Linked DNA regions of Homo sapiens. The protein of the gene in region 2 interacts with the protein of the main gene of each other region in a pairwise test. Each region holds a gene or a part of one and is shown on either strand. Other genes may lie near its edges. The genes, in order: LIMA1, SVIL, STARD9 and ZNF16.

Evidence for each region.
Region 1: the proteins of SVIL (region 2) and LIMA1 interact in a two-hybrid assay, tested with the Homo sapiens proteins (one study listed by BioGRID).
Region 3: the proteins of SVIL (region 2) and STARD9 interact in a two-hybrid assay, tested with the Homo sapiens proteins (one study listed by BioGRID).
Region 4: the proteins of SVIL (region 2) and ZNF16 interact in a two-hybrid assay, tested with the Homo sapiens proteins (one study listed by IntAct).

The regions. Positions count from the first base shown.
Region 1 is NC_000012.12:50,280,239-50,288,493, forward strand, and holds the start of LIMA1 (LIM domain and actin-binding protein 1), read right to left. Parts: upstream 3,283-8,255; 5' UTR 3,182-3,282; intron 1-3,181. UniProt on the Homo sapiens protein: Actin-binding protein involved in actin cytoskeleton regulation and dynamics. Increases the number and size of actin stress fibers and inhibits membrane ruffling. Inhibits actin filament depolymerization.
Region 2 is NC_000010.11:29,519,334-29,527,213, forward strand, and holds part of SVIL (supervillin), read right to left. Parts: intron 7,724-7,880; coding exon 7,628-7,723; intron 5,383-7,627; coding exon 5,139-5,382; intron 4,695-5,138; coding exon 4,118-4,694; intron 3,303-4,117; coding exon 3,077-3,302; intron 1-3,076.
Region 3 is NC_000015.10:42,690,145-42,698,024, reverse strand, and holds part of STARD9 (stAR-related lipid transfer protein 9), read right to left. Parts: coding exon 3,683-7,880; intron 3,566-3,682; coding exon of another isoform or gene 3,553-3,565; exon of another isoform or gene 3,498-3,552; coding exon 3,300-3,497; intron 2,886-3,299; coding exon 2,702-2,885; intron 2,283-2,701; coding exon 2,145-2,282; intron 1-2,144. UniProt on the Homo sapiens protein: Microtubule-dependent motor protein required for spindle pole assembly during mitosis. Required to stabilize the pericentriolar material (PCM).
Region 4 is NC_000008.11:144,940,222-144,948,101, reverse strand, and holds part of ZNF16 (zinc finger protein 16), read left to right. Parts: intron 1-76; exon of another isoform or gene 77-162; intron 163-1,886; 5' UTR 1,887-1,895; coding exon 1,896-2,091; exon of another isoform or gene 2,092-2,189; intron 2,190-7,880. UniProt on the Homo sapiens protein: Acts as a transcriptional activator. Promotes cell proliferation by facilitating the cell cycle phase transition from the S to G2/M phase.

The DNA.
Region 1 (8,255 bases), on a different chromosome or scaffold from region 2:
CCGCCTCCCGGGTTCACGCCATTCTCCCGCCTCAGCCTCCCGAGTAGCTAGGACTACAGGCGCCTGCCACCACGCCCGGCTAATTTTGTTTTTGTATTTTTAGTAGAGACTGGGTTTCACCATGTTAGCTAGGATGGTCTCGATCTCCTGACCTCGTGATCCTCCCGCCTCGGCCTCCCAAAGTGCTGGGATTACAGGCGTGAGCCACCGCGCCCGGCCCAGGGTAGTAGTATTAAGAAATTATTTAAAAGAACATCAAAAGAATGTAAAATTTTCATGGTATCATGTTAACTTCTTATGAGTGGACACAGGAAGTCTCTAGAAAGTTTTCACGTGTCAAGAAATCATCTGACATGCTGAATAATGGATTGCTTGTTAGGTCAAACTCCATCCTTTTTATGAAAAGAGGTCTTCAGTAGCACAATAATTTGACTGAGTCTTGAGGACTCTGCACCCAGCTTCAGAATAAACTCATCAGTATGGTCCTACCTTATCATCCACCATAGACTCTCAACTCCATAATCATTAAGTAGAAACTACTTCATTTACAACCACTGGTTTGTTAGTAACCTGAAGAGGCTGTGTTAAGTAACCTCACCTGGAGATTACTGTATGCAATCTAAAATGAAGTACCTTAAGTTTCTATCAAAAAACATACAGTGAAAGACAATAGCAAACTTAAAAAACAATTGCCTTTTCTAATGGAAATTACTAACTTAGGACTCGTTATACATTTTCCTATCTGCAGAAAGGGTACAATTCTAATCTAAAAGTCATCTATCTAATAGTGTATGGAATTAAGAATGCCTGAAACTAGTTTCACTGTCAATTTAAATAATAAATTCTTCCAATTTGTGGTTAGGTGCCCTATTATGCCAAAGATGTCTAATGAACTCCCACACTCTCAATATTCTTTTGTGTCTGTGTGTGTGTCTTTGATAAATTTTTTTGGTACGAGGGCTCTAAGTTAATTGCAGTTAACTGGTGAAAAATACCAGAGAAAATATAAGAATTTGAAACCTGAAGAAACACTAGTCAAAATTATACTTAAAAACATTTTTCCCCACCCACCTATCTACCCTGTCTTCCCCACCCAAGAAAAAAAGAAAGAGAAAAACATTTTGAGGGCATCTTAGCAGGAAAAAGTATCCCCTGTCACCAAGATGTGAATTGTTTTAGCTTCTGAAGCTTTCTTTTAGAATTATTAGGTTGAAATTTAGCCCCACCTTTAACCAGAGTCTGGAACAAAGCTTGAGTGTACCAAGTTAAAGAAAGTTATACAATGAGGTAATTTTTACAAAATGGCACTCCTTTGCTAATGTTGCCAATATACTGTTCTCTTCCCAGGGACTACCTGATAACAACACTTCCCAGCCCAATACAGAACAGTGGAAACAGATCCAACTATTTACTAAATGCCACATTAACAACAGGGTCTAATCCCATTTTCCATAGGCCATAGAATTGGAGGAAGAGAGGGTAAGAAATATGAAAGTGATACAAATACATAGATTGAAGAGAATCACTCATTATTACTCAGAGGTTTTTGTTTTTAAGGAAAAGCAGAAGAGAGAATTAAAAAACAAAACAAAACACCTATATTCCCTATGCTCCTACAGTACCCTGGGCTGACCTCTAGTATAGAAATGACCTCACTAATACCATAAATTGTATGTGGATCTGTCTAACCCATTTGATTTTAAGTTCTTTTAGGGTAAAGACGTTTGGCACTTTGAATCTACAGTAGGACTGACATGAAAGGCACTCAATATTTTGTCCAAAGAATGAAATAAGTTCCTAAACTAATTACCTAGTACATTATATGTTGTTCTATCAATGCAAAACAAGAAAACATATATGAACACACACTTTTTTTTGCCTTCTTTCACGCCAACTCTATAATTTTTTGAAGATCTATCTAAAACGTGATCATCCTGCACCCAGGTTATACCTCTACAGGAACTTAGAACATGTTGTTAGGGGTCATGTTCTTTTGTGTCTACATCATACCTCAGAAGAAAGGATTGGTGTTATTTCATGGCTCCTGAAATATTTAGCATTTGTGAATAGTATTGGTAACCAAGCAGATAAAAGGTACTGTGTTAAACCATTTAAATCAAGAGCAAAAGAAAGAATACTTAATGCAAAAGAAAACCTCTCCCCAAAATGGGCATTGCCTTAAAAACTGATAACTCCCTAATTACCTTTGACTAACCTGAAAAGTCAAGTCAATTGAACCATCTGGATTAGGCAGATCTGGATTAGGCAGACTTATCTTTTATTTTTATTTATTTATTTATTTTTTTGTAGAGACAAGGGTCTCGCTAAGTTGCCTTGGCTGGTCTCAAACACCTGGGCTCAAGCGATCCTCCCGCCTCAGTTTCCCAAAGTGTTGGGATTATAGGCGTGAGCCACTGCGCCCGTCCAAGGCAGACTTTTGAAAGCTGGAATTAGGTGCAAGACAATAGTAGTTCAAATATCTCTCACCAGGATCAGCTAAACCGTTCTTGCAAGCATCAGTAAGGAGGCTAGGAAGGGTGCCAGATGGTTCGTTCCTAGCAGCTACAACTTCAAGCTTTAGTATGTGTAGCCAGGGGTGTACAATTACCTTACATTAACACCAACATATGTCGGGGGCAAGTGCCAGCGATATATACACGATAGCGATTCGGGGATGACACATCGGCTGCAAGGACTGCTATATTCTCAACATTCCTCAAAAGGGTGTAAGTGTCTTAAACAGAGTTCAGCTGGCGTAATGGAAGGGAGAAAAAATCGAAAAGAGAGGGAATGGCTGAAAATGAAGGAAAAAGAACAGTTGAATATTACAGTATTTCCCTGGAAGGAGGGTATTTGGAGTTTTAATGAATTGTCACCTTCCTCCACCACACCAGAAAGTATACAGTTAGAATGCAGTGTTCTCGGTGGGAGAGGACGGGGTATTTGCAGCTCCCGCCCTTGGGCAGCAAAGGCTCAGCCCGACATAAGCACTCCCCACCCAGCGCAGGCCCCAGAAGTGAGGAAAGAACGGAGGATCAGCGTCCCTCGACCCCTTATCTCGAGGGGGAGGGACTCACACTCCTTGCACTCCCCCCGCCCCAAAAGTCGAAGGAGAAAGAGGGTGTGGAGAGAAGCCGGGGTCTTCCCGCACTCTCCGGTTGTGGAGAGAGAAGGCCCTTACCTGGCTAAAAGCCGCCTTTCCTCTGCGCTGCTACCAGCCCTGTCACAGGTCCCGGCGCTCTACCTAGCGCACCTGTCGCGACCAAGCTGCTAACACCTACTGCTCCTGCGGCCCCGCCCCGGACCCCGCCCACCGCCGCGGGGGCGCGCACGCCAGACAGCCTCCCGTGCGGCCTCGGGCTGAGCGTGCGCGCCACCGGCTACGTGCCCAGCGCTCGCGTCTGCTCCAGTCGCTCTGGCGGTGCGGGGCGCTGGCGACGGGACAGGGTTTTTGCTGCCCGGGGCCTAGTCTACCTCGGCACGCTTTTCTCTGAAGGAGACACGCACTTGCACGACGTGGGCCTCTGTGCAGCTCTACTTTGTCCTTAACTCCTCTGACTCAACGTTATCGCAGTTTGACTCTGGAGCCACTCAGGTTTTTCCTAAGCTCAACTCTAGCCAGCTAGGTTCCTGGTGCTTTGGGGGTAAGTTGTGTGCAGGGAGGGTGTTTTACAGGAGGCTGTGTGGTGTAGTGGAAAAAGCTGAATTAAGTACATTAATCCTGAAAACGGTTTGACAAGGGCAGATGACGTCCAAGTTCTCCAACAGCTGTTTTTACTCCTCCATTCAGAATAGGAGCTGTGCTAATGGTTTGGAGACCGTCAATTGGCCTAGCACTTGGCCATCCTGCCCCCAAATTCTTGTCCCAGTTCCGTGCCAGCTGCATGATGCCTTTTGATAGTATCCTTCTTTCCTGTACCTCAAGCATAGTAGGGTTTCAGACCACAAGTTTTCTGAAGCTTTTCGGAATTCATGCAGCTTGATGCGTTATTAGTAGGGGCTGCTCGTGGGAAAACGCTTGTAATTACACTTCCTCAAGAAGTTAATGAAAATGTGTGAGAAGAGAGATTTCCAACAGGTGATGAATATGCCAGCCAGTTATTCCCTTCTTCCTTCAAATATCCAGCCTAGACTGATTTCTGGATAGGTATTGTAGAAATAAAAATTTCAGACAAAACAAACTTAGATTTTGAATCGGACAACAGTCAGAACCAAAAGAGGCTCAGACACCCCTGCTCTAGCTGCCCAGGCATCAAACTTTATAGGCTGAACACGAAAGTAAAGAAATTTGATTGGCTACAGCTAAGCGTTTGCCTTATTTGGGTATGGTCACATGGGAGGTCCCTAATTATATAACCACTTGGCTGGTTGTCTGTTTGTGATTGGTTGAAACTCCATTCAAAATCAGGTACAAGGGGCCGGGCGCGGTGGCTCACACCTGTAATCCCAGCACTTTGGGAGGCTGAGGCAGGCGGATCCCCTGAGGTTAGGAGTTCGAGACCAGCCTAGCCAACATGGCGAAGCACCGTCTCCACTAAAAATACAAAAATTAGCCGGACGTGGTGGTAAGTGCCTGTAATCCCAGCTACTCGGGAGGCTGAGGCACGAGAATGACTTGAACCCGGGAAGTGGAGATTGCAGTGAGCAGAGATCTCGCCACTGCACTCCAGCCTGGATGAGAGAACGAGACTCCATCTCAAAAAAACAAAACAAACAAAAGGTGCAAGGAATACCTCTAAATTTTGGGTTGCTTTCTGGGTACAAAAACAACTCCAAACTAATGGCCTGCTACTTATTTTGCATTAACAGTATCAAGTATCAAGACTCCAGCAAAAGTGGCAGACAGCATGGGAATGCTAAAGAGCATACAATATCAATACAGGATAGTACTCCAGAAAATACGTTACCCTGCATGTGGCGTTCCCTCAATAGATGTCTCCCCTCCCCCCAATTTTTTTTAGCTCTGTGCTTTAGTGGATACAAAAATTACTTGCTTTCCCAAAGCCTCCTTTTGAAGATAGAGCTAGCATTAGGTTGATTGCTAAATTTTCAGGGATTTTATGAGCCAGGTCATAAGCACAACCATTATTAGAAATCAAATTATATAAGCTACAATTAAATTATCTTAAAAATAAAAGTAATAGGCCAGGCATGTTGAGTCACATTTGTAATCCCAGTGCTTTGGGAGGCTAAGGCGGGAAGATGGCTTGAGGCTAGAAGTTTGATGTTGCAGTGAGCTATGATCACACCACTGCACTCCAGCCTGGGCAACAGAGTGAGACCCTATTTCTAAAAAAAAATTTTTAAATATAATAAATATTAAAAACTCATCACTTTGTAGTTTTTTTCTTCATTTTACTAATAATTCTGCTCTTGAGGTTATTTGTCCATTGTATTCCCTGTGGAAATACTACATATGTTGTATGCATCTCTTCCCAACTCTATTCAGAAATGTCACATTGGTAGCACGAAATTGGCTGTAAGGGGAGTATTTACACCATGGAAATGGGCAAATGCAGCAAGTCAGGGCGTGATTTATTGTTTTGTTGATTTTTCTAGACCATATGTTAGCAAACCTTTTGTGTAAACAGCCAAATAGTAAATATTTTAGGCTTTGTGGGACTTATAGTCTCTGTCACAGCTACTCAGCTCTCACTGTAGTGCCAAATGTGCCAAAGTAGCCATAGACAATACTTAAAGAATGGGCATGGGCCAGGTGCAGTGGCTCACACCTGTAATCCCAGCACTTTGGGAGGCCCAGGCAGGGATCACTTGAGGCCAGGAGTTAGAGACTAGCCTGGCCAACATGGCAAAACCCTGTCTTTACAAACAAATAAAATAAACAGACAAAAAAGCTGGGTGTGGTGGTGTGTGCCTGTAATCCCAGTTACCTGGGAGTGTGAAGTGGGAGGATGCCTTGAGCCCAGGAGTTGGAGATTGTAATGAGCCGAGATCACACCACTGCACTCCAGCCTGGGCGACAGAACAAGACCCTGTCTCAAACAAAAAACTCATAGGCCTTTATCTGATAGTGAAGGGAACAATAGAGTTGAAAGGGAAAAATGGAGTAGATACAGGCAAATGTTTACATACATGATACGGTGCAACAAGAATAGCAGAACATACTGCAAAAGAAATTATGTCAACATATTTAAGAATCTTGGAAGAGAATGGCAAATATGCACTATAATTGATGAGACATCTACATATTGGAAGAAAATTACCTAGAGATTTATCTCCAGTACACAGTTGAATAAGCTTCTGTACTGGTAAAGATATTTGTTGCTTTAAAAGAATTGGTGTCAGCTGGGCACGGTGGCTCACGCCTATAATCCCAGCACTTTGGGAGGCTGAGGTGGGCAGATCACAAGTGGGCGGATCACGAGGTCAGAAGTTCGAGACCAGCCTGGACAACATGGTGAAATCCCATCTCTACTAAAAATACAAAAATTAGCCAGGTGTAGTAGTGTGCGCCTGTAGTCCCAGCTACTCAGGAGGCTGAGGCAGGAGAATCGCTTGAACTCCAGAGACACAGGTTGCAGTGAGCAGAGATCACACCATTGCACTCCAGCCTGGGCAACAGAGCGAGACTCCATCTCCAAAAAAAAAAAAAAAAGTAATTGGTGTCTGCCACACAGATTATATTTCTACTACATTATTGTCTATTTTACTTTTTTTCTTTTGAGGCAGAGTTGTGCTCTGTCCCTCAGGCTGGAGTGCACTGGCACGATCTTGGCTCACTGCAACCTCTGCCCCCTGGGTTCAAGTGATTCTCCTGTCTCAACCAAGTAGCTGGGATTACAGGCGTGCACCACCAAGCCCAGCTAATTTTTGTATTTTTAGTAGAGACAGGGTTTCACCATGTTGGCCAGGCCGGTCTCAAACTCTTGACCTCTAGTGATCGACCAGCCTTGGCCTCCCAAAGTGCTGGGATTACAGGCGTGAACCGCCGCGCCCAGCCGATATTGTCTACTTTAAATGTGGCTTCAGTAATGAATATTTGAAATTTAATAATGAATAGTTGAAAGTAAGCTGCATTTTGTTTTAATGGTGCTTTCACAATAATGGGAAAGAAGACTGGAGTGGCCACAGATTTGTCAGAAAAATTTCCTAATGTCATCATTTGGTTCTGTTACCAATTATAATTCAGTATCTGAAATAAAACAAGTCAATCATTTAAAAATATTCTGGATAGTCTGGGCACGGTGGCTCATGCCTGTAATTCCAGCACTTTAGAAGGCCGAGGCAGGCGGATAACTTGAGGTCAGGAATTCAGAACTGGCTTGGCTAACATGGTGAAAGCCTGTCTCTACTAAAAATACAAAAATTCACTGGGCGTGGTGGTGCACGCCAGTAGTCACAGCTACTCGGGAGGCTGAGGCAGGAGAATCACTTGAACCCAGGAGGCGGAAGTTGCAGTGGACTGAGATTGTGCCACTGCACCCCAGCCTGAGACAGAGTGAGACTCCGTCTCAAGAAAAAATAACAATATTATGGATAAAATTTATTCTGTTTACCACCAACCCAAAAAAAGGAAACAGTTGGAAATTATAGCTAAATAACTTGAAACTGAAATTATTAAAATTAGCCAAGTACTTAGGTTGAGATGGGTGGACATGTACTTTACCAACCGCTAATGCTGCATGGCACACATATCCTACATTATAAATGCATTTTTCTCATTCTTTTTATTCTGGCCTAGCAACAAGATCAGCTAATATTAATTTCTTGTAATACCTTACTTTAATGATTGATATTCTTAAATAATTTTCATTACTTTCAGTTGCACTGCAGTTAAGATCAACCAACATTCAGAAAATTAAAAAATTAATAGAATGCACTATAAAAGCTTTGGAAAAATTAAAAATTGGCATTAGAAAGCATGACTCTCAAGTTGAATATTTGGTTAAGTCATCAGTTTGAAGTCATTCCATTTAATAATTTTTTTTTTGAGGCAGGGTCTCACTCTGTTGCCCAGGTTGGAGTGCTGTGGCACAATCATAGCTCATTACAACCTCACACTCCTGAACTCAAGTGATTCTCGTGCCTCTGCCTCTCAAGTAGCTGGGACGACAGGCACATGCCACTACACCTGGCTAATTTTTAAAAACTTTTGGTAGAGATGGGGTGTCACATGTTGCCTAGGCTGGTCTTGAACTCTTGGCCTCAAGCAATCTTCTCATCTTGGACTCCCAAAGCACTGGGCTTACAGGCATGAACTGCCACACCTAGTCAAAAATAGATTTAAACCTCTG
Region 2 (7,880 bases):
TATTCACTACGTGGCCCTGGAGGCTACCGGAGCCGAATCCCTCCTTTGGTAAAATGAGGCAGTCAGAGGCGGTTAGAATAAAGTTTGGAAGTCCTATGATTTTATATATTTCTTTCTCAAGAAGGAAAAGTAAAGCCCAAATAAATGGAGGAATAACATTCTTATTTTAAATAGTTTAAGCTTCATTATTTCATTTTCACAAAAGGGAGGGATTAAAGTCTCATGGAAAAGCTATCATGGATGAATTGTAAATATATGTAATTTAGTCACTTTCAGCAAAGTACAAATAAAAGTACTGTGAAGGTAAGGGGGAAAAGATCACTGGCAATATATTTTGCATTAGTGTAATTTATTACAAGCATAGCTGCTAAATAAAGTGTCCCTTGTTCTTTCATAAATGTATTTTAACAAACTGAATAGCTGAATATCAATCAAGCATTCCTTTCTATCATGATTCTGAACAGACTGGGCTCAGGGATCTCTTGGAGACCATGATAAGTTATGGCTTCTGTTAGCCAGCAGGTGTGTGTGCTCACCCATTCAATTCTGAATACACTTCCGGGCTGTTCACAGAAACTTTACAGCCATCCTTGAACGCCTTACATGTCCACAAAGCCCAAGCTAAGAAGCTACGTCTTTCCAGTATCTCACTTTTAAAAATGAGAATTTTACAGTAGGATTAAAGCTTTCAGAAAAATACAGGTCAACTAAAATTTACCAAAAAACAGGTAAGTAAATCAGGAATTATTGCTTAGTGGATAGACACAGGACTTCTTCATCAAAAGTCCTAAGTCCAGATGGACAGAATATTCCCAAAGATGGGAAGGCTCCTTTAAAAGCCTTTGAAAGAAGGGGGCATAATATTAGTATTTCCCACTGGGGAATACCCCAGGGATATTTTCTCATGTGTAAAACATCAGAACTTGTGTATAAGTGATATTTATTGTTAATTTCCTTAAATGATCTCTCTTCTTCCTCACCTAACCAGTTGTCAATATTTGGGTTTCTGGGATGAAACTCTCTTTGAGCCCCATTTTCGTGGAAGAGAACTTCAAGCCTCAATAGGCCCAACTGCTTCCCCGATTGAAGACATCCCTCTCCTCATTGCACTGTCCCCTCTGCCCCTTCCCTATGCCCCTCAGCCTGCCAGGTCTAACTTATCATGAATTTTAAGTAAGTAAAGGAGAAAGTAAGTCAGATTTAACAATGTGATTAATTTGTCAGTTGAAAAAGATAGCATCTATTATTTTACAAATAATGTTCAAGAAGCTTGGCTTAAAACTAGAAAGAAGGGCCAGGTGTGGTGGTGCATGTCTGTAATCCCCGCACTTTGGAAGGCTGAGGTGGGAGGACTGTTTGAGGCCAGGAGTTCGAGACCAGCCTGGGCAACATGGTGAGACCTCCCAACTCTACAAAAAATCTTTTTGAAAAAATTAGCCAGGCATGGTGGTACGTGTCTGCAGTCCCAGCTACTGGGGAGGCCGAGGCAGGAGGATCACTTGTGTCCAGGAGTTCGAGGCTGCAGTGAAGCTGTGACAGCACCATTGCACTCTAGTCTGGGCAACAGAGGAAGACCATTCCTCTAAAAAAAAAAAAAAAGAAAGAAGGGGCCAGGCACGGTGGCTCACGCCTGTAATCCCAGCACTTTGGGAGGCCGAGGCAGGCGGATCAGGAGGTCAGGAGATCGAGATCATCCTAGCTAACACGGTGAAGCCCCAACTCTACTAAAAATACAAAAAATTAGCTGGGTGTGGTGGTGTGCGTCTGTAGTCCCAGCCACTTGGGAGGCTGAGGCAGGAGAATCGCTTGAACCCGGGAGGCAGAGGTTGCAGTAAGCCAAGATCATCCCATTGCACTCCAGCCTGGGTGACAAAGCAAGACTTAGTCTCAAAAAGAAAAAAAAAAAAAAAAGGAAAGAAGGAAAAGAAAGAAAGAAGACTTTTCATTGTGGTTTAGTATAGTCTTAGGCAGTTTGAAATGTATCTAGAAAAATAAGAGTGGTCAGTGAAGCCTGCAGACTTCCGTGTGGTGGGAGGTGCTGAGGAAGGGTGGAGGTTGGCAGAACTGTGGGAACAGGCGATGGAAATGGTTCTCCTAATATGGAGTTGACAAGATTTTTCTTCACCCAGTTTTCCTATCAACTATTCCATCATGTTTTTTTCCTACTGAATACTTTCTCCTTTTTTTGTACAAATTTATGTGGTGCATGAGAAATTTTGTTACACATATAAAATGCATAGTGATCAAGCCTCTATTTAGAATGTCCATCACCTCAGTACAATACGTTTTTATTTAGTCACCCTACTCTGCTATCAAACTCTGAATTTATTCCCACTATTGCATCTTTTGCTGCTTAATTCATCTGTGGTTAAGGGTTAACAAGGAAAACACATCCCCAAGGTAATTTACTTCCAGTTCTCTGTATCTGTCTAATTTAAATATATTCCTCTGCACCCTACGTCATTCTTTTGAAAGAAATTAGGCTACTGTGTTATTTGATGCTGAAATGCAATCTTTCAAGCTATTACCTGACATACAATTTCTAAATGCAGTTCAGAAAAGTCATCCATTTTACAATCTGTAAAAGAAACAAAACTTGGATTCTAAGTCCAAAGATATATGCCCTCTATGTAAATTTATCTTCACTCCCTCTACACATATTTTACACAAAGTCACAAGTGGTTTGTGCATTCAGTATGAACCCTGTGTATCTAAAAGGGGAAGAGCCAAGATTTCAGCTCCTGTCATTAGATAGTCCAAGAATTTAATATTATAAAAGATATTGGGACAGTGGAAACAAATAAATAAAACAGAAGTCTGTTTCTGTTTGTTTTCTCATCTGAGTCTGGAACCAGCCCTGTCCAAACCAGGCTCATTACCAAACCAGGCTCATGAGCAAAGGCAGTTCACTCTCAAACACCTCAGCTTCCTAGAATTACTCCAGGACAACAGCACAGTCCTGTTAGAAGCTGAATGTATGATTTCATCTCTTTGCCCATCACCGAGATTGTTTTCTAAAAGCAAGCTGTAAGCTCCTCCCCGAGAGAATTACTTTTCGCTCACCGAATCTCATTACCTTTCTTTAATAGACATGGTTTTGCTGGGTGAGTCAAGAAGGCCCTCCCCTGTCGGCGTTTTGATCTCTCCAGCAGCAAACATCGCACATGGATTCTTGCAGAGCTTCTCCTGTGGCTGTTCCGAAGAATCCTGGGGCTTCCAGGACACGGGGGCTGTGGTTTGAGCAATAGTTTTCCCAGCAGCTGTCCCCGTCTGCTCGGAAGTGGGCTCCCCGAACTCTGCCGCTGGGAAGGAAAAGAGCAACATCAGCACTGAACTCCTCAGGCAAACATTCTTCCAGCGATTCGCCCTCAACAGTGCAGCTCTCAGGGTTCAATCCGTGGGCACACGGCGGGTGACCCAATCCACTGGGATTTATGCAAATCTGCAGCACGCTACACTCTGTGAGAAAACCAAACTTCCTGGAGGGTTACCCACACAGCAAAATGCTTCGTGGCAATTGGTTTCTCTCCTGTGTGCGAGACACAGGAAGTCAGCTTTAACTATTTACTCCAGAATGGTTCTATTCTCCAAAATAATACCTTAACATTCAAATGTGCTATACTCACAAACGCAAACCCCTATTATAACTTACACTGTACTGTTTCATACAAACGTAGAAAGAGGATGAAGGGCCCACGCAGTGTAGCTTGCTAGCCTGCAAAACAGGCATGCAGGAAGAAGCACTCTAGCGATTCAGAGACTGGGGTCAAGTCTTTCCTGAATTCCTTGTGCTTACCCAGCCTGGACCTTTGGGGTCATCAATTTCTAAAAGGGGCCACCAGAACTAAGCAGCTCAGAAGGCCATTGTGTGAGTGACCAAAGTCAACAGAAACTCCATGAAGATGTGTGAAAGCTCTTCCAGTAGTTTTATTGCTGAAAACTTGATGTATCCTCTAGTCAGATCCAGGGAAGAATAGGATTCCCGCTGAACTTTTAACCAATACTAGCTGTAAACTGCCTATAGAACTTTGTTAAAAGCCATCATAGACACAGGACAAATCAAGCAGAAACTAAAACCCAGTGGCTTTCTAAAGCTTTAGGGGCACTGGTCACTTACCTCTTAGTGAAAACTTCCTTTTCATAACATTCTCCACCTCCACCTTCTCTTCAAAGGGCAGCCTGTCCCTCAAGTCCAAGTTTCCTTGTGCATTCATTTTAGCCATGGAAAATTCCTTCGGTTCATCCCCGAGGTGGGTGATGGGAGGGTTCGCCCGTTCCAGGCTTCCTCTTCTGGGAACAGCATATTTAGATTCCTTATGGCTGTCTCCTTCCCTGGCTCGGTTCAGGATGGGGTAGGATGCTTCTGCTTCCTCAAAGGACCCATACTTCTCCATCCCACTGTCTCGACCTGTCAAAGCTCTCTTGCTTTCTGTCTCTCCATATTCTCTCAACATTCCCTTGTTCTCGCTACCCTCTACCAAAGGCTGCCAAGCTTGCGATTTCAGAATGCTTCTAACTGGAGAGTCCGAATTTTCTATTGAAGAAGAAAACTTATAGTCAGTGGCACTTGCATTGTGGTCAAGAGGTGGCTTTGTGCGAAGATCTCCGGCATACATTGGAGCAACCGTGGATGCTACGGTAGACACTGATGTGTTCACGGCAGGTGAGAAAGGAATGAGCTTTCCACTCTGCACCTGGAAGGACACAGTTAAAAATTAAAAAGCTGCTTGAAAAATATCATCTATATAAATCCTGGTTTATGAATTGACAGAAGCTGAAATACTCGATTTGATGCAGTTTCACTGTTTCTCTTAGTGGAAAACCATTCCTGGACATAGTTATATAATACGTCTCATTAAACAAAATCCTCTGGGTGAAACACAGTTGGGCATACTATTTTTTTCTCTCCAAAATGGACTCATTCTAGATATTTCAGCAAGCAAGGTATGAAAACAAAAAAAGAGCAACATACTTGGTAGAATTCTCATTTTTAGGAAGAAAGCTATTACCAAATCACCTACAGGTAGCAGTTTCCTGGTAGAGCACCTTAATTACATCATTGACCTCAGAGGAATACTGCAGTGCTATAATTTAAGAACACACACACACAAACTGCAATCGGACTATAGCACACCCACCTGCTCCACCTCTCCCAGTGTGACTGGCTGAGTTTGATAGCGAGCGTTCATTCTCCTCTGTCTCGTGTCTATTCTGTTCCGGGTAGAAATCGCTTTTGAGACTGGCTGGGACAATTTGTTAAACAAGGCCAACTTTTCGGCCAAGCTTAGAGTGGAGGAATCAGGTTCTCCTTGCTCAGCAAGCTCTTTGCCCTCATTTGTCTGGTCCTTGGCTAAGGCCTTTTGGTGAGCAGAGGCCTGCAATCTGAAAAAAATAAAATGTCAGCAACACATATACCAACAAACAAAAGCACACCGCTAAGTTTCTACGTTAACTTTCTGCCAAGTGTCACATCATTTTGCAAAGGGCTTCTTTTTCCCTAAGCACGTCTAGGACAGAGGCAGGCAGCTGTTCAGCTACTCAACAAGCAGAGTCGGCACAGGACACTTAGCATCATCACTTCTACAAAGAGCAGACTTTGAGCTCCGAATTATTTCTACAAAACGAATTTCCTGTTTAAGACATTGAAGTCAGCTTGGCTATACCTTATCTTAGACAGAGAGGCGGCATTGTTAGTATCGTAATAAGTAGAATGAAAGGGAGTCACAAAGTATTACCTACGGTGTATTTAGACCTTATCTAAAGATATGGTTCAGAAGGTGGTCTTTCATTTTAAATAATTAGGAAACGATATAGTCCTCTGTCAACAACATAACAGAAGGTCTTGATTTTTACTTGCTAAAGACAAATGGCTTAATTTTTAAAGAGTCACTGCTTCAGCTTAGCATTTACTCTCATAGGTTCCTACCAGTTTTCTAAAAGGTACTTAAATCTGCAATTTCCAGTAACCAGAGGAGTAAAGAAAATTTCAGGTGATTATAAATCCCTCCAACTGGCCAGGTCTGGTGGCTCATATCTATGGAAGGCCAAGGCAAGAGGATCACTTGAATTTAGGAGTTGGAGACTAGCCTGGGCAACATCGTGAAACCCCATCTCTACAAAAAATATAAAAATTAGCCAGGCTTGGTGGTGTGCACCTGTGATCCCAGCTACTCAGGAGGCTGAGGTGGGAGGATCGCTTGAGCCTGTGAGGTAGAGGCTGCAGTGTGCAGTGATGAAGCCTGGGCGACAGAGCAAGACTCTGTCTCAAAAATAAATGAATGAATACATAAATCAGTAAATAAATAAATAGCTCCCTCCAACTTCCAGCTAGAAGAGAAGGAAAGCCTGAAGTCTTCACGGTCAATATGAATCTCTAGGGGTTTGTAATGCACTATATCTTCTGTCCCTGACCGATCCAATTGTCAGATCTAGTAAAGGAGATATTCTGCCTTGATTCTAGTGAATCCCCAATGCACAGGCTATCCCAGGCCAAAGAGTAGCCAGCTTCCATATTCCAGGTGTATAATGAGGCCAGTGACAAAAAAGCCACCTGAGCCTCAGAGTCCTCCGTGGACCTCGTGCAGTAACCAGGAGGGCAGGGAAACCCACTTCTCCGGGAGGGCCCTGCTGTGGGTGTACCAGCTTTATCCCGGCACTGCCATTATTTTTAGCTTTTGCGGTTTGGCTCATATAACAGTAAAATGAAGGGATATGACCTGATGTGAGGACATAATTTTAAAGCACCACAATCTGAAACACGACAGTAAAACATCTACGTTTAGACACTACAAATTGTTATTTTCCCAGTCCCAAAATATAATGGCATTGACTCTATAAATTAGAAAGAGGGAGGATTGTTTTCAGTCTGTATTTGTGTCTACAGGTGTTTGAAAAAGACTGGGTCTTATCAGCATTTCAACATTCAGGTTAATGTCTCATTTTTCTTTTTTTTTCTTTCTTTTTTTCTCTTTCTTTTTTTTTTTTTTTTTTGAGACAGAGTCTTGCTCTGTCACCAGGCGGGAGTGCAGTGGCACGATCTTGACTCACTGCAACCTCTGCCTCCCAGGTTCAAGCGATTCTCCTGCCTCAGTCTCCCAAGTAGCTAGGATTACTGGCACATGCCACCATGCCCAGCTAATTTTTGTATTTTTAGTAGAGACAGGGTTTCACCATGTTGGCCAGGACGGTCTCAATCTCCTGACCTCGTGATCCACCTGCCTTGGCCTCTCAAAGTGCTGGGATTACAGGCATGAGCCACCGCGCCTGGCCAATGTCCCATTTTTCTATTAATCTTTATTAAGTGCTATAACAGTATTTAGATGAAGAACAAAATTTTTGAGGGATGACCATTATTATGAAAAACAAACAAAGCAACTGGATACGTGAGTTAGTGTGATCCTAGTTCTAACACATAACATATGCAGAGAGACAAAATGTTTTCCCACGCACGCCAGCATGTGGTTATCAGCACCTTGTGCTATGACAAAACAAAATGCCACGCATTCTGGAACAACTCACGGCATTGACTTGTTTGTCAAACAAACGACAGACATTCAAGACTTTAGGATGCATCTGCTGTTCGGCACCTTTGCACCGGGTGCCGCATGCATCTGTATCTGTCCAGTACCTGGCAGGCTGCACAGCGCTCCTAGCTACAGTGGGGCTAGGAAGTCTCGCCATTACAGGGTGGGTGCCCCCAGAACACGAAGCGGGGATAGGTTCACTTTAAAAGCAATTGCCAAAGAGGAAACATTCATAAGGAGAGAGAAGAAAAGAAGCATTAAGGACAGCATAGTTTTAAATTCAGAAACGTTAAATCAAAAATTTTAACAGAATATTTTGCTAATTATTTTTGGGGAGAAAAAATCACGAAAGAACTT
Region 3 (7,880 bases), on a different chromosome or scaffold from region 2:
TATAGGACAGTGGCATAATATGCTTTATTTTGTATGCATAAAGACCCCTAGGAGGATACCTTCCAAGAAACAACACTGCTTTCCTTGGGTCGGGTGAGGGAGAGGAACTAGGTACACTGAGGGCGGGGATGGGTATTTCCCTGTATCCCTTTTACAGGTTGAGTACCCCTTCTCCAAAATGTGTGGGACCAGAAGTGTTTTGGATTGTGAATTTTTTCGGATTTTGGAGAATTTGCATATGCATAAGGAGATATGATGGGATAGGATCCATGTCAAAATACAAAATTTATGTTGGATATATACCTTATACACACGGCCTGAAGGTAATTTCATATAGTGTTTTAAATAATTTTGTGCATGAAACCAAGTTTTGACTGTGTTTCAACTCAATGTGTCACATGAGGTCAGGTGTAGAATTTTCCACTTCCGGTGTCACAGTGCTCAAAACGTTTTAGACTTTGGAGTATTTTGAATTTCTGATATTTGGATTAGGGATGCTCAACCTGTATGTGTATATATTTGTGCCCTTTCTACTATATGAATATATTATCTATATAAAACATCAAACTTAAAAACATGCAATAAAAGAGAAAAAAAGAAACACTATTCAGCTGTTAAAAAGAAGGCCAGGCATGGTAGCTAACACCTGTAATCCCAGCGTTTTAGGAGGCTGAGGTGGGAAGATAGCTTGAGCCCAGGAGTTTGAGACTAACCTGGGCAACATGGCAAAATCCTGGCTCTTAAAATAACTAATTAAAAGAAGTCAGCACTAGATTTACTGATATGCAATGATATCCCAAAGATATTTTTAAAAGAAAAAGCAAAGTGAGAAAGTGAGTACAGTATACTCCCATTCATCTGCTTTACAAAAAGATGTATATACATCATCCCTGGAAATATACAACAAACTGGGGTAAATGACTGCTTCTGGGGAAAGCAAATAGGAGACTCAAACATGTGCCTGACATTGTATGTCTTTTGCTACTGTTTAAACATTATTTTGTTAAATGACGTTGTATTTGTAAAATGAATTTCAAATATTCATCCCCAGCCAGATCTTACTTATGAGCTCTATATTTCCAACTGCTCTATCTGGATTTCTCACAGGCACCTTCAACTCAGTAAGTACAAACCTGAACTCATCATCTCCCACACAAAACCTGGTTCTCCCTCCAGTGTTCCTTGTCATTGTTCACATGACCGCCTTTCAGCTGCTCAAGTCAAGTGTGTGCTCTTCTCAACTCCCCGCTCTTCCTTCCTCTAACACCCAACCAGTCACCAAGTCCTGCAGATCTCTCTCTCCATTACATCCTCCTCTGTTCGTCTTCACTAGCAGTGCCCTGAAGCAAGCAATCATCTCTCTCAGCTCTGCCGTGGTCATCTAGGAGGTCTCCCACAGCTGCTCCTGCCTCCTTTTCTTACTATCCAGTCATTCTACTCCCCTACTTAAAAGTTTTCTATTACTTTCAGCAGCCTTTTCACTTTTGGGAAGTAACACAATGAGATGGATTAGAAAGGGGCCAGAACTCTCATTATAGTCCACATGATTTTCTAGTCCCTTCTCATGTCATTTTCCCATCTCGCTCTTTACATTCCAACCACACTAACCTTCATTGAGTTCCTCAAACTCTTCTTCCTCAAGGCCTCACTTGCTAGGCCCACATCTCTCCCAATAACAGCACCAATAAGCTTTTACTGCATTAACTACCTCTTATCCTTTTAGTCTCAGTTTAAACACATTCTGTTCGGAGTATCTCTATGACCTTCTAGACTAAGTCAGACCCCTGGTTTTATGCTGGTTTAGCAACCCGCCTTCAAACAATTTACTGCAACAATAACTAAACAATAAAATCAGTTGTTTAATATTTATCCCTCAAACAGTCTAAGGACAAGAACAGTTTTGCTCACCGCTGTATCCTAAAATAATACCCACAGAATAAACATTTGTTGAATGAATGAACAGAAGGAGCAGGGGGCAGAACTAAATGGAAAACCAAAGGCCTGCACATAAGAAGGGCTCATGTCAGCAGTGGCCTCCAGGAGGCACGGCGTCTTGCCCAAACTCCAGGAGGCACAGCGTCCTGCTCAAACTCTTGCCTTGGCAGTCCAGGCCCCTGGCTCATTCCCAACATCTGCCTACTCACCATATTCTCTGGGAACTGGAGCTGGCCTGACAAGGCTGGGCTGCTATTATAGCCAGAGGTCATGCCAGACGAGAGGCTTCCATTAGAGCTGGTGCACAGGGAGCTGGAATTGGCCAAGGTATGTAGTTTATCCTCTTCCTGGGAAGGACAAATCACCATTAACCAGCTTCTGATGCACCCTCACTTTCCCCAGGCCACGCCTTTTCCTACCCAAAGCCACCCCTTCCCTGCTCACCTCTACTGCTCCTTCACCCACCTCCCAGGGCCTCCCTGACTTAGCCTCACATGCCCTGGCTTCCTTAAAGCCACCACTGCTCGTATTTCCCCACACCCTGCACCTCACACCAAAGCCTCTTCCTCCCAGGCCGTGGCCTGGGGAAAGGAGCTGGTGTGATGATGTAAAAAGACAGTGAGCCCAGCTTTGAGTTGACAACAGGGGTCCCACAGCCTCCTCCAAATGTTACGTATGTCCCAAGACTCAGAGGCGGCCACGGTGAAGGTGTACCAGTCTGAGGTCCAGGCCTATCCTGAAATCAGAGGCATGCCCCACTCCACACCTTCAATAGCTGGGAAATGATCTTCTGGTGGATTCTCAGCTTCTCTTGTTCAGTCCGCTCCCGCAGTTGGTCTCGGGCCCGGGCAATCTCCACCTTGGCCTCCTCATGGGCCTGCTGGTAGTCTTGCAGCATCAACTCTATGTCAGAGGGTGTGTGAGCTGACCTTGACACTGACTCTGGGCTCCTGAGGAAGATCACGGGGTGGAAAGAACATGGTGGGTGGGTGACAGTCCTGGTCTGTCCATCCAAGGCTAGCTTGGGTGATACCACCTTCTTAAAAGACCCAACCTCCATTTGCCCACAGGGTTTTAAAGTATGATTTTTTAGCCTCAGGAGAGGTTGCTGGACAGAGAGAACCAAGCCACCTTGAGACCCAGGCCTGCAGACTTGCATAGCATGTCAGAGCCCTTCTGTCCATCATTTCCTGTGCCTTCTCTCTGCCCACCCCCTCCCTCATTCCATTCCCTTCTATGTCCTCTTTCCATTTACCCTGTCTCCTATAGAGAACCCTCCAGGATGCTAAAACTTCAGCTCCTGCTCCCCATACTCCCCTCCCCCAACAGAGCCTGCTCCCAGCAGGGTTCTCGGTCCACACTACCTGGTGGTCTCCACAACATCCTTCCTCAGTTGCTGCAGGTATTCTCGGCGTCTGCTGGGCAAGTCAAGATCCCAGATGAAGAGATCTTTGTTGGGCAGGAGGCTCAGTTGTTTCTGAGGGCTAAGGCTTCGCGTCCGGCAGAAGTTCCCAAGTCGCTCAGCCCGCTCTCTCCTGAGGGTCTCAATGGCCTTTTTTTGCCTGAGGCAAAACACGATTCGCTGAAGCTGGCCCTGAATGTCCTTCACTTTAAGATCTATCTCTGACCCCTGGAAGATCCCAGAGATGAACCAGGGCAGAGGAAACAGCAAGCTATTAGCTTTCTTGGGTTCTCTTTCCTCACAGCCCACCCCTTCCCCTCCCGACTCCAGGCTGGGGGTCCTTACCGTGCATAGAGCTCCTTCCAGGTGGATGTCACAGGTTCATCAGCAGCAAGCGCCTCCCCTGTCCCACTCTGCAGCACCTGGAGCAGGGCATCGGCCTCCCCAAAGCCATGGTGCAGTTTCGCTTCTGTGAGTTCCACGCTGAGTGAGAGGTTCTGGGCCCCAACTTGCAGGGGGATCTGCTCCCTCTTGGACCACTCAGAATCCTGGCTGTGGTCATTAGGAGGTTGTGGGGGACTCTGTTCCTGCTTTTCAGAGCTGAGATCACCGCTGGCCCCCAGCTCCTCCTCAGTCATGTCCAACCCCCCAGGTGAGCCCTTCTGAACCCCACACCAGTTACTAAATTTGTTATGCACCGGGAGGTCCCTCAGACTGTGGTGCTGGTGCTCAGGGGCCATGCACATCTGGCAACTGAAGCACAGTAACTCCTCAGGTTGGCAGGCCTGAGGGAGGCCCAAGGCAGAACCTCGGAGCCCTGCAGTATCAGTCAACTCAGAGACAGGGCAGGGGCTGAGGTGCTGGAGGCCTCCCCATGAAGAAGGTCGGTCCAGAGTGCGTTGTGGTTCCCCTGGAGATGCTGAACTCTCACCTCCATTTTCTGTCCTGCTCTGCCACTGACTTGGCTCCCTACCGCTCAGTGGGCAATGCTCCGGGGAAGCCACCTTCTCAGGCACAAAGCTGTTGCCCAGCCTTTGGCTCCTGTGCCTCAGTGGTGGTGGCAGCAGTCTGCTTTGGACCCCGATAGTTGTCCTGGGCTGAAGCTGCTGAGGGTGCTGCCCTAAGAAACTAAATTGGAGTTTTGGACTCTGCTGTGGGCTGTGTGGGGAGTGCAACTCAAGGAAGGATCTCCCATTACTCCTTTGTAAGGAACTTCTACCTCTCTGGGAGCCACCTAACTCGTCAGTGGTTTGGGAATAATTATCCATTGGAGTCCTTGGGGCATCAACAGGGTCTGGGCTGGAGTCAAGCTTCTGGTGGCCTTCAACAGGGTGAGTTGAAGGGGCTGAGAGGGTCAAAGAGCCTGGGGAAAGACCCGGCTCTTGGGTGCTGGCACTAAGAGTGAGGATTGGGGAGGAGGCCCTGTCCACGAACAAAGCACTTGTGGGGCCCAGCTTCTTCTGGACCCTGGAGTCCCCAGGATACTCGGAAGTACTGGGAAAGAGCCCTGGGGAATGAGGGGAGCTGGGACTGGGACTGCTGACAACTAAGCAATATGACTCCTCTGGCTGGGAGCTGGGAGGCAGGAAAGCATCAGAAACTGAGGGGCTCACAGAAGGAAGATGCTGCCCAACGGGGGCTTTCTGAAACCTCAAGTGGGATGAGGGTATTGAAGGGCTCTGGGGCTTGTAGGGAGTGCTTTCTTCCTGAAGATAGAGGAGCTGAGCCATTTTCTGTGCTGTTTCCTCTGCCTCTCTCTTCTGAGGTACCCCTGGCACATCTCCCTCTTCTTGAGACACAGTCGAGGTATCTGAGCCTAGCCCTTCAAGGATCACATTGGCTCCCTGAGGTTCAGCCTCTGAAGTCTGGAGGCACAGGGTGGGTAAGGTGAGGTCAGTCTGGCTGCCCTCATCCACAGTGGTCTGAGTAGAGCCATCCATCATCAGGGCCTGTGGGGCTTTATCTGGGATGTCCCTCTTGGTGTTCTGCTCCCTTCTGGCCACATCTGGCTGGGAGAGACTCCCAAGCAGCTCTGAGGTACTGTGCAGGAGCTGTGAGAGGTGGAGAGACAGATTGTGCATGCTGGTCCATGAGGCCAGATCAAAGGCTGATACTGCACTGGCTTCAGGCTGAGCAAAGGAGATGTCAGTGCTGCTCCAGTGGCGCCTGCTGCCGAGGGTCTGTGTGCCCTGTTCGAATGTGTTCGTCCTGGTCTGTCCCACAGGGCAGCCTGCCTCTGATGGATACAGCAGCATAATCTCATCCACTGGACCTGCAGCACTTCCTTTGGCCAAGGGGGGCTTACTCCTCAGACAGTCTGCTTCACCAGAAGGGCCCCTGAACTGAGGCCTTCTGTCATGACCCGAAGTGGGGGCTACTCCTTCAGGGCTCGTCGGGATGTGGGGGTCTCCTAAGGCAATTGAAGAACTCCCTCGGAATACTTCCCAGGCCTCATTTGAACCCTGGGCATTCTCAGTGCTGCTGTGTGTGGTTGACAGATCACAAATATTGGCGTAAGTGCTGAGGTGGGAGTGGAAAGGGGAGTTCTGGTCTTCTAGGCCATTGTCCATGCTGGAGCACCGGGCCACATTTGATAGTGTCAGCCCCTGGGGCTTCTGGCTGCAGGAAACATCGACTGCACTGCCAGACATATACTGCTTCCAGCTGATACGTGCAGGCTCCTCCGGACGCCACGGCAGCGCATAGGGACTGATGTCACTGGAGCCAAAGTGCAGCATTCCTTTGTCCATCTGAGAGCACCAATTTTCTGGCCTAACCTGGACACCCAGTTTCTCTCGCTTTCCCTGTTGGGCTTGTTCCAAAGTACCAGACATCCAGCTGGTCGTGAAATCAGGGGTTGGCATGTGTGAGAGAGTGGAAGGCATTGGATAAGGAGGGGTGGCAGGCTTCAGGTGCCTGTGATCGGTAGTCCCATCATCCAAGCGAGATGAGGCTTTCTGATTGCTGTCCTCAGCCTGCAGAGATGTTCTTGCCACTGACTTTCCTGAGGAATAGCCCCTGAGATGTGGGTTCCACAATCTGTTAGGCCCCTGTGTATCTTCGTCTGTAGGGGAAGGAGGCTCCACACTCAAGTTCAGCTCCTGAAGAGAACGAGAAGAGCCGACAACTGAGAACTGTGGTGTGGGGGAGGACCTGGAGTGTTTGGGGCCAGAGAAGATTGTAGTCACAGGAAGTGAGCCCCTGTGGTTGGGTGCTGGCTGCTCTCTGCCAGTGTAGAGGTGGCCACTCCTCTGAGCAGCAGGCTGCGGTGTTTCATTTTGCCTCAAGGACACAGTGGCTGGGTCTTTGAAGCCCTGTGATAAAATCTTGGACACAGGAGGCTTGGCCACAGCCACCTCCTCTCTCCCAGCATCTAAAATCTGACAGCCATCTAAGCCATCTTCATCAGGAAGGGGATTCACACCCTGGGCGAAGCCTTCTCCACCACCTGAAGCCTGGTCTCTGTGCTGCTCTTCTTCCTGCCAGGGACTGTCTTCCTGGGGGCTGCAGGTATGTTTTAACCTTGCTACAAACTTGGCTTGGGAATCCAAGCGATTGTGATCCCTCAACTCAGTGGAAAATTGTGGCTTTTCCAAAAAACATCTAGTGGTATTTTCTAAACATTCATGCTGTGGCTCTACCACCAACTTGCTCTCAGCAGACCCTTCACTTAAATCCAGGGTGTGTGGTCCCTGAGTTGTTGCAGGTGGTTCTGGATTGGTTTGACACACCTGTGCATTCTGGTCACCTACAGAGCTGTCCCTAAACTGCCTCAGGGGCTCAGAGTACATGCCTGCAGGGAAAGAGGCAGCCTCAAGTTCTGTGCTTGCTTGCTTCTCAGCAACCTTTTTCTCAGGAACCCCTATTAACCCCACGCTTCCATCAGTAGCTGAGTGGCTGAAGGAACCTGTCCTCACGTCAGGAGCAGAAGGGGATCTGCAGCCTTGAGCTCGAGATAGGACAGCAGCCACAGTAGAAGGCTCACAAGTGCTGCTCTCTGTTAGCCTAAATTCCCTGTTAACATCTTTGGGCTCAAGGCCATGTGTCAAGTGCACATCAGGTCCCCTAGAGATCTCTCCTGTCTCATCCATTTCATAGGCCCTGGAAGGTACTACACAGGGTGGGTGGATAGTATGTGGGGCAGCCTTGAAAGGCTCCTTCCCTAGGTCACCATCTCTAAAACACAGTAAAGTAGAGGAATGGGAGGAATAAGCATGAGTAGCAACAGGTTGAGAACTGCATGGCTGTCGGCAAGGAAGAGTTCTGCTCTCTTTCCCTCTAGACGGGCTGAGAGTCCTGCTGCCTTCAGGGTTCCTTGAGAAGACAGGGCCATCTAAAGCTTCCCTTGGGTGTCTACATGGGGCTTCCTCCCCAATTCCCCCAGGATTTGCGCTTGGTCTTTGATCTGGCAGTGGAATTGGCCTGGAATGTTTGCTGCCAGCCCTGCAGACTTCTGTCAACCCAGACCCAACACTCTCCTTACACTGCACACACTGCTGTGTGGGAGCTTCCAGTGCAACCCTTGTCAGAGCTCCAGGCAGAA
Region 4 (7,880 bases), on a different chromosome or scaffold from region 2:
CCTATGGGTGACACGTACCATCACGTTGACTCCCTGCACCATCCTTCTGCCACCTTTCTTCACATCCCCTTTGCAGATCCCCTTGACCACACCCTCATTCTCAGCTGGTGCTCATGAAGGACAGAAGAGTCAATGTCAGTACAATGTGAGTGAAGGGCTGAGGTATGTCAGTGCTCCCAGTGGGCACCCGGGCAGGGTATGGTGCATTTACACAGTGAGGGGTGGGGGAATCAGTAACATGTGAGGAGCCCGTCATGCCGCCACGTGGGAGTGTCCTCTCTCCTGCTCACAGGGAGTAGTTAGGACTGGAGATGAGCCCAAGTTTGTGAATCTTAACAAGGGTGTTGATGCCTCAAGACTGGACATAATCACCAAGGAAGTTGGTGGCAGTGCAGAAGTGCACACTGGGGTGCCAACATGAAATGGGGAATGAGAGGCTAGGAGGGAGTAGCTGGTGCAAGTAAAGATGGGAACACCTGCTGTGGGTGCTGCCAGGATGGTGCAACTCAGATAGAACTGACCACTAGGATTTGGTAGGCGTTGACACATAATGATGACATGTGGGGCTGCAGCACAGGCTGCCCCTGGCTGTTCACCCTTTGGAGCTGCTGTTCTCCCACTCTAGGTGGGTCTGGCCTGCCCAGCTTCAGAGCATTGTGAATGTCAGCAACAAGGAGTGAGAAGAGTGGTCACAGCAGGATACAGGCCCACAGCAGGATACAGGCCCACAGCAGGATACAGGCCCCACAACAGGACACAGGCCCACAGCAGGATACAGGCCCGCAGCAGGGTACAGGCCCGCAGCAGGGTACAGGCCCCACAGCAGGGTACAGGCCCCACAGCAGGACACAGGCCCCACAGCAGGACACAAGCCCAACAGCAGGACACAAGCCCAACAGCAGGACACAGGCCCACAGCAGGACACAGGCCCACAGCAGGGTACAGGCCCACAGAAGGGTATGGCCCACAGCAGGGTACAGGCCCCACAGCAGGACACAGGCCCACAGCAGGGTATGGCCCACAGTAGGGTACAGGCCCACAGCAGGACACAGGCCCAACAGCAGGACACAGGCCCAACAGCAGGATACAGGCCCACAGCAGGACACAGCCCCACAGCAGGACACAGGCCCACAGCAGGACACAGGCCCACAGCAGGGTACAGGCCCACAGAAGGGTATGGCCCACAGCAGGGTACAGGCCCCACAGCAGGACACAGGCCCCACAGCAGGACACAAGCCCAACAGCAGGACACAGGCCCAACAGCAGGATACAGGCCCACAGCAGGACACAGCCCCACAGCAGGACACAGGCCCACAGCAGGACACAGGCCCACAGCAGGGTACAGGCCCACAGAAGGGTATGGCCCACAGCAGGGTACGGGCCCCACAGCAGGACACGGGCCCACAGCAGGGTATGGCCCACAGTAGGGTACAGGCCCACAGTAGGACACAGGCCCAACAGCAGGACACAGGCCCAACAGCAGGACACAAGCCCAACAGCAGGATACAGACCCACAGCAGGACACAGGCCCACAGCAGGGTACAGGCCCCACAGCAGTACACAGGCCCCACAGCAGGACACAGACCCTGTGGGGGCTGCCCTCCTATCATGGCAGGTCTGGGCACCATGACCCACTTTACCTTAGGGTCAGCATCTTGCCCCTTTGTACTGTGGCCCTGGCTTTTGAGTCTGTGTCTCCATGGCTGACTCCCTCTTTTTAGGTCCAAGATCAGGAAACACAGCATCAGCCCCTGAGACCTGGCAGCACCAGGCCCTCTTCAGGTCTTGGGCTGCAGGGGTGGAGGAAGAGACCCCGGCCTGATGGGAGGATGAATCCCTAGAGCTAGCCTGTCTGTAGACTCACCTGTGTTCTTGCCGGTTTTCAGGTCCTTGTCATGCCCAGCCTCAGAACTCGCCGTGAGGAGGCAGAGATGGAGCTCTCAGTTCCAGGACCATCCCCCTGGACCCCTGCAGCCCAGGCCCGTGTGAGAGATGCTCCTGCTGTGACCCACCCTGGATCTGCAGCCTGTGGTACCCCCTGCTGTAGTGATACTGAGCTGGAAGCCATCTGCCCTCACTATCAGCAGCCAGGTACTTTAAGAACAGTTCTCCGCTGGTGCCCTTATTCTGGGGAAGTGATGTCCATGGAACCCTGTGCTTACCCCTAGGAGGCATCTGTGTCATCACAGGTAGGGAGGGTGACGGGGTACTCTGACTCAAGGAGCCAAGGCTGGATGTCAGCAAGGAAGTTAACCTAGCCTGGCCCCTGGCACCTTGAGCAGAACTGTGATTTCCCCACTTGACACGAAGAGGTATGACATGATGGCCACCAGCGTCCTTTGATTTGCCCTATACTCCTGACCCCTTCCCAATTCAACAACCAGGCTGGTGGCAGCCCTCTCCCCTCAGGACTCTACTCTGGTCCAGGGCTTTGTACTGTGGTTACCCATACAGTTGGCCATCTAAAGCCTAGGAAGAAAAGCTGAGGAGTTTCTTGTGGGGAAATAGAGGCATTCAAAAGCACCCTTGGCCCGGGTGTGGTGGCTCATACCTATAATCTGAGCACTTTGAGAGGCCAAGGCAGGAGGATTGTATGAGGCCAGGAGTTCAGGACCAGCCAGTATAACATGGCAAGACCCTATCTCTACTAAAAAATTAAGAAAGGCTGGGTGTGATCACTCTCGCCTGTAATCCCAGCACTTTGGGAGGCCGAGGTGGGTGGATTGCTTGAGGCCAGGAGTTCGAGACAAGCATGGCTAACATGGTAAAACCCTGTCTCTACTAAAAGTACAAAAATTAGCCAGGTGTGGTGGCACATACCTGTAATTCCACCTACTTGGAAGGCTGAAGCACAAGAATTGCTTGAACCTGGTAGGCAAGGGTTGCAGTGAGCTAAGATCATGCCACTGCACTCTAGCCTGGGCAACTGGAGTGAGGCTCTGTCTCAGAAAAAAATACATAAATTTGAAAAAAAAAAAAGCACCTATATATTTTGGGGAATCCAGGAAGTCACATGCATGCGCAGGACTGGGTGTGTGCTCAGAAAAGACCTGTTAAGACCATAAGCTTTCTCAAGAACTCTGTCTAATCTCTAGGCTCAGTGAAGGCAGTCAACTCAGAAAGAGTTGTAAACAGCGTTTAAAAAGTACCCCAACACAGAGTCAATCCACAAAGACTGGGAGAAGTGTTTTGTGTTGGTTTTTCTCTTGATAAAATCTCTGTCAAAACACTGGTTGAACACAAGCTAAAGAAAAAGACTTCAGTGACTGTACTCGACAAAGAATAGTCTTTGCAAAAATAGTTTGGAAAAGTCACTAAATGAACATGTGACTCTAGTCTTCAACAATCAAAAACAGCAAAGCCTGGAGGGGGGATACCACATTTTAATATTCAGTTGTGCAGTTTTTAACAAAGCAAAAATCATGAAGCATATAACGAAGCAAAAAAATATGTCCCATTCAAAGGAAAAAAGTAAACTGACAAAAAGTGTCCTGGAGAAAGCACAGACATTGGACTTAAGTAGACAAAAACTTCAAATCAACTGCCTCAAATATGCTCAGAGAGGTGAAAGAAACCATAGAGAACTAGGCTGGGCATGGTGGCTCACACCTGTAACCCAGCACCACGGTGGCTCACACCTGTAACCCAGCACCACGGTGGCTCACGCCTGTAACCCAGCACCACGGTGGCTCACGCCTGTAACCCAGCACCACGGTGGCTCACGCCTGTAACCCAGCACCACGGTGGCTCATGCCTGTCATCCCAGCACTTTGGGAGGCTGAGGCAGGTGGATCACGAGGTCAGGAGATCAAGACCATCCTGGCTAACAAGGTGAAACCCCATCTCAACTAAAAATACAAAAAATTAGCTGGGCATGGTGGCAGGCACCTGTAGTCCCAGCTACTCTGAAGACTGAGGCAAGAGAATGGCATGAACCCAGGAGGCGGAGCTTGCAGTGAGCTGAGATCACACCACTGCACTCCAGCGTGGGTGACAGAGTGAGACTCCGTCTCAAGAAAAAAAAAAAGAAAAAAAGAAAAAAAAAAACCATAGAGAACTAAAAGAACCAGGAAAATGATGTGTGAACAAAATGAAAATATCAATAAGAAATACAAATTGTAAAAGAAACATAGAAAGTCTGGAACTAAAAAATGAAATGGAAATTTTGCTAGAGGGTTTCAGCAGTAGATTTGAGCAGGCAGAAAAATCGGCAACTTGAAGATAGGATAATTGAAATCATTCAGTCTGAGGAGAAAAAAGATCTAAGAAAAGTGAACTTAATGGCTGGGCGTTGTGGCTCACGCCTGTCATCCCAGCACTTTGGGAGGCCGAGGCAAGCAGATCACTTGAGGTCAGGAGATCGAGAGAATCTTGGCCAACGTGGTGAAACCCTGTCTCTACTAAAACTACAAAAATCAGCTAGGCGTGGTGATGCATGCCTGTAGTCCCAGCTACTCTGGAGGCTGAGGCAGGAGAATCGCTTGAACCCAGGAGGCGGAGGTTGCATTGAGCCGAAATCGTGCCACTGTACTCCAGCCTGGGTAATGGAGTGAGACTCTGTCTCAAAAAAAAAAGAAAAAAGAAAAGTGAACTTAATGGACCATGAGACACCATCAAGTAGACCAACGTGCATAGTAGGGATGTTCAAGAAGGAAAAGAATAGAGAAGGGGATGGAAAAAATATTTGAAGAAATAATGGCTGAGAGTATCCCCAATGTGATGAAAGACATGTCTACACACACAAGCAGTTCAACAAACTGAGTAGAGTCTATTTAAAGAGATCCACACCAGGTCTCTTTCTAATCAAATTGTTGAAATACAAGGAATCTTGAAAGCAGCAAGAGAGGAGACCTATCCCTGAACAAGGGGTTCTGGGTAAGATTTCTAGCCAGTTTTTCATCAGAACCCATGGAGGTCAGAAGGCAGTGGGACGGCTTAGTTAAACTGCTAAGAGGGGGAAAAAAACCTGTCAACTAAGAATTCTGTTATCTGGCAAAATTATTCTTCAAAATGAAGGAGAAATTAAAACATATCCAGGTAGATAAAAGCTGAGGAAGCTTGTTACAAATAGACTGCCCCACAAGGAATGCTTTTAAAGGGAGTCCTGAAGGTTGAAATGAAAGAACACTAGACAGGGACTCAAAGCCATACAAAAATAAAGACCTCCAGTAAAAGTAACTACATAGGTAAGTATAAAAGTTAGTATCCCTATATTTTGGTTTCTAAGTACACTTTGTATTAAGTTGGTGCAAAATTAATTGTGGTTTTTGCCATTACATATTTCCTAAGTGATCTAAAGAACAAATGCATAAAAGGTCTGCATTATAAGTCTATGTTTTTTACCCCACTATGTATAAAGGTGTAATCTGTGATGACAACAACATAAGGGGGGTAACATCTGTAGAGAAGCAGAGATTTTGTGTTACTGAGACTAAACTGGTATCAGTTGTTTTAGGATGTTAGAACGTTCATTGCAATCATCATGGTAATCAGTAAGAAAATATCTTAAAAATGGGCTTGACGCAGTGGCTCACACCTGTAATCCCAGCACTTTGGGAGGCCAAGGCAGGCAGATCACCTGAGGTCAGGAGTTCGAGACCAGCCTGGCCAACATGGTGAAACCCTGTCTCTACTAAAAATACAAAAATTAGCTGGGCATGGTGGTGGGCACCTGTAATCCCAGCTACTCAGGAGGCTGAAGCAGGAGAATTGCTTGAACCCAGGAGGCAGAGGTTGAACTCAGGCAGAGGCATGAGATTGTGCCACTGCATTCCAGCCTGGGTGACAGAGCAAAACTCCACTTCAAAAAAAAATCTTAAAAATGGGCCAGGCATGGTGGCTCATGCCTGTAATCCCAGCACTTTGGGAGGCCGAGGCGGGCAGATCACAAGGTCAGGAGATTGAGACCATCCCGGCTAACACAGTGAAACCCCGTCTCTACTAAAAATACAAAAAAATTAGCCAGGCAAGGTGGTGGGCACCTGTAGTCCCAGCTACTTGGGAGGCTGAGGCAGGAGAATGGCGTGAACCCGGGAGACGGAGCTTGCAATGAGCCAAGATCGCGCCACTGCACTCCAGCCTGGGAGACAGAGCGAGACTCCCTCTCAAAAAAAAAAAAAAAAAAATCTTAAAAATGGACACAAGAGGCCAGGCGCGGTGGCTCACGCCTGTAATCCCAGCACTTTGGGGGCTGAGGTGGGCAGATCATGAGGTCAGGAGATTGAGACCATCCTGGCCAACACAGTGAAACCCCATCTCTACTAAAAATACAAAAAATTAGCCGGGCACGATGGCACCCGCCTGTAGTCCCAGCTACTTGGGAGGCTGAGGCAGGAGAATCCCTTGAACCTGGGAGGCAGAGGTTGCAGTAAGCTGAGACCATGCCACTGCACTCCAGCCTGGGTGACAGCGAGACTGTCTCAAAAAAAAAAAAATGGACACAAGAAGTAAGGCAAGAATTAAAATGGTACACTACAAAAAAGGTAATACCTAAGAATACAGCAGTAGAGGAACTGAGGAACAAAAAGGTAAAAGATTTATCAAAAATAAATAAAATGGCAGAAGTCCTTCCTTTTCAGTAATTACATGTGAAGTCTCCAGTCAAAAGGCAAATATTGACAGAATGTGTAAGAAAACATGGTCCAACTATATGCCACAAGAGGCTTTAGATTCAAAGACACAATAAGTTTAAAGTGAAAGGTGGAAAAATATTCCATGCAGAGAATAACCAAAAGAGAGTTGGGGTGACTATACCAATATTAGACAAAATAGATGACAAATAAGGACAGTATGTATTTATAAAAGGGCAGAGTCATCAAGAAGATATGGCAATTATAAGCAGATACACATCAAAAAAAAGAGCTCCAAACTATCTGAAACAGACATAGACAGATTGGAAGGGAGAAATAGCTCTATAGTAATAGAGACTTCAGTACTCCACTTTGAAAAATGGATAGAACATCTAGACAGAAGATCACTAAGGAACTAGGGGATTTGAACAGCGTTACAACCCAACTAGACCTAATGGACGACCATCACTGTGGTCTAAATGTCCCCCCCAACCCCTCCCCTCTCCAGTCATATCTTGAAATCTAATCTGCAGTGTGTCGTTATTAAGAGGTGGGGCCTTTGGGAGGTGACTGGGCCATGAGAGCAGAGCCCTGTGAATGGGATTATCTCCTTATAAGAGGCCTGAGGGAGCTTGTTAGCTTCTTTTCTTGCCCTTCTACCATGTGAATACACATAGAAGGGAATACCTAGGAGGAACCAGCTCTCATCAGGCAGTGAATCCACTGGCACCTTGATCTTGAACTTCCCAGCCTCCAGAACTGTGAGCAATAAATTTCTGTTGTTTATAAATTACCCAGTCTAATGTATCTTGTTACAGTAGCCCAAATGGGCTAAGACAGAAGTATATAAAATACTCCATTCAGAAAAGAAGATATACATTCTTCTCAAGTGTACATGTAACACAAACCATATGTTAGACCACAAAACAAGTCTCAATAAATTTAAAAAGATTGGAATTACACAAAGTATCTTCTCTGACCAGCAACAGCGGGGAAACTGGAAAGTTTACAAATGTATAGAAATAAAACAACCAATGGATCAAAGATGAAATCAGACAGTTAGACAATACCTGCAGATGAATGAAAACACAACATACCAAAACTTATGGGATGCAGTGAAGGCAATGTCAAAAGGGAAATTTATAGCAATAAACACCCTTGTTGAAAAGGAAGAGAGAGGCCAGGTGTGATTGGGAGGCTGAGGTGGGTGGATCGCTTAAGCCCAGGAGTTCGAGACCAGCCTGGGCAACATGGTTGAGACCCCATCTCTACTAAGAATACAGAAAATTAGCTGGGCGTGGTTGCTTGTGC